2 separate regions of the Homo sapiens genome follow, and region 1 is linked to region 2. The links come from fine-mapping of genetic effects on plasma protein levels. A gene starts in region 2. The other region holds a variant in brackets. All regions are shown on one strand. Distances are from middle to middle.

The links. A credible set is the group of variants that fine-mapping cannot tell apart. PIP is the posterior inclusion probability: the model's chance that the variant is causal. Protein levels are from antibody-based Olink assays in UK Biobank. Linkage for the fine-mapping came from a reference panel and not from the study's own genotypes, which makes the PIPs less certain.
Region 1: its variant is the best candidate, but not a certain one, in a credible set for the plasma level of the CD34 protein (UK Biobank, PIP 0.82).

Annotation. Positions count from the first base shown.
Region 1 is chr1:207,899,313-207,902,216 of GRCh38, reverse strand. It overlaps CD34 (CD34 molecule), which reads left to right. Exons shown (of 8, transcript NM_001025109.2): 2 at 2,214-2,396. Among named protein-coding and RNA genes, the nearest start is that of CD34, 10 kb to the left of the region's middle. The variant A/G (reference allele first, on the strand shown) is at 2,189.
Region 2 is chr1:207,909,638-207,912,549 of GRCh38, reverse strand. CD34 (CD34 molecule) reads left to right here and starts at 1,425. Exons shown (of 8, transcript NM_001025109.2): 1 at 1,425-1,548. The coding sequence starts at 1,470. LOC107985253 (a long non-coding RNA gene) reads right to left here and starts at 2,182. Exons shown (of 4, transcript XR_001738424.2): 1 at 1,993-2,182; 2 at 1,712-1,895.

The sequences.
Region 1 (2,904 bases), 10 kb after region 2:
GTGATTCAGGCTCTTCATCTCTAAGACAGAGATAGTGATATTCCTTCTCCCCACTGCTTACCTGACACATAACAGTAAGACACGATTGCTGCAGTCACCATTAATAGCAATCTGCTTGCAGCAGGTTGTGGAAGGAAGCAGATATGAGAGAGTGAAACCCTTGTCATCACCTTTAGGGAAACCGTTCTTGGCCCCAGGTTGATGGCCGTGAAGCCAAAAGTCTAACTTCCCTCTTGATCCTGAGGGAAACAAGAGATGTCATTCTACCTTGCTGTTTACCTGGAAATCGCTGAAAAGTACAGATCTAGATCCCAATCAGGAAAATTTAGAGACAAGCTTTAGGGTGGCCTGGGACCCTCAGAGGCTCTTCCTTGAAGATGCAACTGCCTTTATGAACTCTGGATACCAAGTTCACCCTTAACATTTACAAGGCCCAAGGCAAGAGTACAACAGAGGCCTACATACTATATTTCTAAACATTTCAAGGTTGTAAGTCAGGCCAACTAACTAATAAAATATCTTCTATCCTCTTACCTTGACAAACATATCTTCGTGATCACCTGGAAGGCCAAGTTTCAATTTGGGATGCTCAGATTCTTGGAATTCACTGCCACAGTGCAGCTTAGCAGGAAGAGATGGCTCCTGGCCCCAGCCCACTTCCCTTCATCTACTTTCTACCCATGACTCTGGCTCACATTGCAAGGCAATTGCATGTGTGCCTGGGACACCCCACCCACAGGCTTAAGCACTAAGCACTAACTCTTCTCCCTGCAAGCAGTCATCATTTGGCCACCACTGGGCCTTGGGGGTGTACACCCTTGTGCTGCAGTTCCCCTTAGCAGGATGGACTGGGAGAAGCGGCCCATCGTGGATGTGAGCAAAGTGCCATTTGATCAAGAAGTGCTAGGACTTCTGGTCCCCACAGTATGACCTAGAAGAGAGGGTACATCCTGATTGGTCCTCACAGGAAGCAGGACAGGGTGTGGGCTCTTTGAGGCATAGGGTTCAGTCAAGAAGCTTCTCCTTCCTGTGTCTAATGAGGATACTGACTGGGAATGGTGAGTAACATCTGTAATCCCAGAGCTTTGGGAGGCCAAGACAGGAGGATCACTTGAGGCCAGGAGCTTAAGGTTACAGTGAGCTATGATCTCACCACTGCATTCTAGCCTGGGTGCTGTGATGACAGAGCAAGACCCTGTCTTAAAAAAAAAAAAAAAAAAGTATGTATCCCAGGATATACAGAAGAGATGTGCAAAGACACTCATGAAGATCTTCAGAGAAAAATGAGATCCAAAACATTATACTATAATACTATAATAACTTAGCATTTGTTATCTCATTGTTTATCCCAGCAATCCATGTAAGGTAGCCAGAAAAGACCCTTACTTAAGAGGTAAGAGAGCTGAGATACATACATGCATTAAATTACATGGTTAGTTATTGGAAGAGCCAGAACAAAGCTTGTCTACCTTCCCACTACATTGATGAGAAACCAGACCTTGTGTTCCCTGGTTCATTAGCTGAATTCCTAGGTCAGAGCATGCTAAAAGAAGAAAAGGAAAGGCGAATGGGTTTGAAGGCCATGAGCAAAAGGATGAGGGGAGTATGGGAATGGGAAGTCTGAGAAGTATAGATTTTTAAGGGGATCGCATAGAGACAGTGAGTCTAGTGATTATTCCAAGAGTTAGTATACTGGATGGAGAGTGACCAAAAAAGAGGATACAGTGAAAAGAAAAAAGAAGCATGACCTTTTGCACACATTAGATCTTTGCAATATTTATGCAGGTGTAATTTTATATTTTAGTATGTAACTAAACATACTATGAACATCACCTCATAGTTCCACGTTGCTACAGTTTTTATAATTTTTTTCTTTCTAATGTTTGTTTATATGATTATATAATGATTATGGTATATTAAGTGCATATATCACTTATCCTATCATAATTCATTTAGTTGTTCACGTTTCCCTCCTATAAATAATACTGTATGAGACATTTGTATGCATATAAATCTTTCCTTCCCTATGTCCTCAGGGCAAATTTGGTAGTGGGAAATTAATCCACTGTCCAGGAGTATGTTCTTGTTGCTGCCAACAAGGGGCAGCAGGGAATGTTCTAGACGAATTCTACCTGAAGTCAGGAAATTGCATCAGGTGATATCACCAGGCTGATATCTTTAGGTTCTG[A/G]TTCTTCCTCCTCGTTTCCCTATAGCTTCTGGGTTCATGAGTCTTGACAACAACGGTACTGCTACCCCAGAGTTACCTACCCAGGGAACATTTTCAAATGTTTCTACAAATGTATCCTACCAAGAAACTACAACACCTAGTACCCTTGGAAGTACCAGCCTGCACCCTGTGTCTCAACATGGCAATGAGGCCACAACAAACATCACAGGTAAAAACAGCATTTGTGTCAGATCCCGGAGAGATGCTGGTGATGCTTGGGTAAAGCATTTAGGATGTTTTCAGACCGCTCCCCTCTCCACAGAGGAAATTATACAAGTCCCTAGTATTAATGACTTGAGTATCATGCTTAGGGTGCCCTGAAGTAAGTTCTAGATAATTCTTCCTTCAGTGACAGTTTTCTCAGGCCCATGTCTTGGGAGCTGATCCTGATCAGTAATGCCTCCATACCCCTTCTCTCATGCTGAGTCTAGCTTAGTGATAAAATAAGGATCAGAAGACTCAATAGAGATCTCCGATCTCTTCTAAAGGAAAGAAGGTGGGTACAGGTCCAAACTGGGGGTCTTTGGCTTCTCTAAGGTAGACCAGCATCTATTTCAGTTTCAGGACACCTCTAATACATTCTAGATTCTAGCTCTTGTTCCAACAGCTTGAAATGAGTTTGGTCAGGGATGGGACACGAAGTAACTGTTAACTCCCCAAACTCCCTTTTCTGTGTT
Region 2 (2,912 bases):
ATTCCGTTGTATTCAATCAAATTAGCATATCAGGCCTTTGCTCTTATTGTGTGATGAAAGACTTTGTTCCCTGTTTAAAGGAATGCTAGGCAACAAGACCAGAATAAGGAGATTTTGGGTTTGTTTTTAGACCTGGATCCTTCTCCTGTGCAACCCCAACGCATAGTAGGTTTGAGATGGACTATAAAGGTAAAGCTACTTTTATAATGCTAGAGTGTCTGCGGAGAAATCAGAAAGGACCACAGAGTGCTGGTCTGGCTTCTCTTTTTTCCCTTTAGGCTATGTGGTACAGACATCATGGAAGAGCCTGAACTGAGTATTTATAATTTCATGATTCTGCTCTGGATATCAGAGCAGCCTCTCCCAGGTTATACCTTATCTGATCCTCCCCTGGTGCCATCATCTGCCCAGGCTGGCTTCTCCTTTCTCCCGTCTCTACGTCCCCAAGACTAGGCTGCCTACCCGGCTCAGAGTTTCTTCTATTCAGTACAACCAACACCCAGAGGAACTGGTGAGGAACAGGAAGCTCAAGGATCTATCAAGTGGTGGAGGATGGAGTCACAGAAAGTCCTTTTTCTGATGGGAGAGCAAGGTGAAATCCCTAGTGGCTTAGACCCAGGGCTGGAGAGGGGATAACTGGTGAGAAGGCATCCAGGGAAGTCCTTTTTCTTTAGGATGATGGTGATGGGGAACTAAATGGGGAAATATGGAAGGTCACAGGAAAAGTTAACACAAGTTAGCAAAAAGTTAACATAACACAAAAAGGTCTTGCAGGAAAAAAAAAAGAAAAGAAAAGAAAGAAAAAGTCTCCAAGAATGGTTTGGACAGCCAAAATGAATACTTATAGTCACGTATACCTGCTCACTCCTGACGCTTCACTCACACACAGCACAGGATCTGGTGAGGCTATCACTAAATGTGCCACATTGTGGTTAAGTTTTACCTGATTAACGAAATGCTCACACTTCTAAACTGAGGTCCTTACAGTAGATTCCTTTTGCAAGATTGTTACTGGCTTACAACTTAAAAATAAAGGAAAATCACAAGGAAAGAAAAGTGGGGAAAAAATCGGAGGAAACTTGCCCCTGCCCTGGCCACCGGCAAGGCTGCCACAAAGGGGTTAAAAGTTAAGTGGAAGTGGAGCTTGAAGAAGTGGGATGGGGCCTCTCCAGAAAGCTGAACGAGGCATCTGGAGCCCGAACAAACCTCCACCTTTTTTGGCCTCGACGGCGGCAACCCAGCCTCCCTCCTAACGCCCTCCGCCTTTGGGACCAACCAGGGGAGCTCAAGTTAGTAGCAGCCAAGGAGAGGCGCTGCCTTGCCAAGACTAAAAAGGGAGGGGAGAAGAGAGGAAAAAAGCAAGAATCCCCCACCCCTCTCCCGGGCGGAGGGGGCGGGAAGAGCGCGTCCTGGCCAAGCCGAGTAGTGTCTTCCACTCGGTGCGTCTCTCTAGGAGCCGCGCGGGAAGGATGCTGGTCCGCAGGGGCGCGCGCGCAGGGCCCAGGATGCCGCGGGGCTGGACCGCGCTTTGCTTGCTGAGTTTGCTGCGTGAGTACCGCCCGCGCGCCGCGGCCGCTTGGCTTCGCCGCGGGGAGGGTGGAGGCTTTCTGGGAGGCTGAACAGCAGAGCAGAGTCTCACGGAGGGAAGGGACCCCTGCCCAACCCACGCACTGCCGCCCACAGCTGCTTCCCCCCGGGGCCAGCGCCTCACCTGGGAGCTGACGGGGGTGGGAGGGGAAGGGAAGGCCATCACCCCCGCGAGTGTGCGTTAGCCGAGGTGTGAATCGGTCAGCACGACTGGTTCCAATGGACTGAGATAAAGCGCTTTGGAGATGCCAGGGTCTCTTCTGGTTGCCAGAGGCGCGGAGTGCGAAGTTGCAGCCAGAACCGGGAGACTGGGGAGGAGAGAAGCAGGAAAAGTTTTGTGGCTCTTGGTTGATTCAGAAAGTATAGACACGGAGCGGATTGCTGGGAAGGGGCCGGTGTGCCCACCTTGCACAGGGACTGGGAGAGCCAGAAGTGGACATTAAGGAATTCGAGGGAAGCGAATCAGGGATGAGGCTCCAGGTCCCAGGCCAGGGGTGTTCGGAATGAACAGTCCGTGAAAAGGAAAAACAAAACCAAACAACCAACCAAACAAAAACCTTGCATTTAAGATTGGGAAGCTGAGTTTGAATTCCCACTTCAGCAACCCCACCGCGGAGGAGGTAGAAGTAGACAGAATTTGCTCTGCGCCCAGCCTCGCTCGCCTTACCAAAAACCGTCACCCCTGCACAAATTTCAAAACTTGTCACCTTTTGGAGTTTTCTTCCTCTGCCCCTGCTCCAAGTTCTAAAGCTAGTGGATGGGTTAGAACACTGCCCCCACTCACCTACACATATCCTTACTCTTAAGGTCTTGCTCTCACTTCGGTTAAAAAAAAAATAGGCACCCGGTAAATATTTATACTCGATTACTTTCCTTGGGGAATGACATTCTCCACCTCATCTCTTTGCACTTGGAAGGTTTGAAACTTTTGAAACTTTGTACATTGCTCTCCCTTTTGCTTACAGCACTCTAGGGCTCCCAATTCTGTACTCTCACTACATCCTAAGGGCCACCCACTGTGGCCCTGCAGAGTGACCTGGACTAGACCTCTTTGTTCCCAGTCTCCTCTGTTGTCCATCTTTGGGTCCGCCCAGCTGGGGACAGCTGCCCCTGGGCTGGAGGAAGCTCTGAGAGAAGTTTTGGGTTGCCCTGTTTGGCAGTCCTGGATGTGTGCTTTGGGGCAAGGAAAAGCTATCAATGAGGTTTCAAAATTCTAGAGTGGGTGCTAGACTAGGCCCTCATAACAGGAGTGAGTCGGCCGGGCGCAGTGGCTCACGCTTGCAATCCCAGCACTTTGGGAGGCCGAGGCAGGCAGATCATGAGGT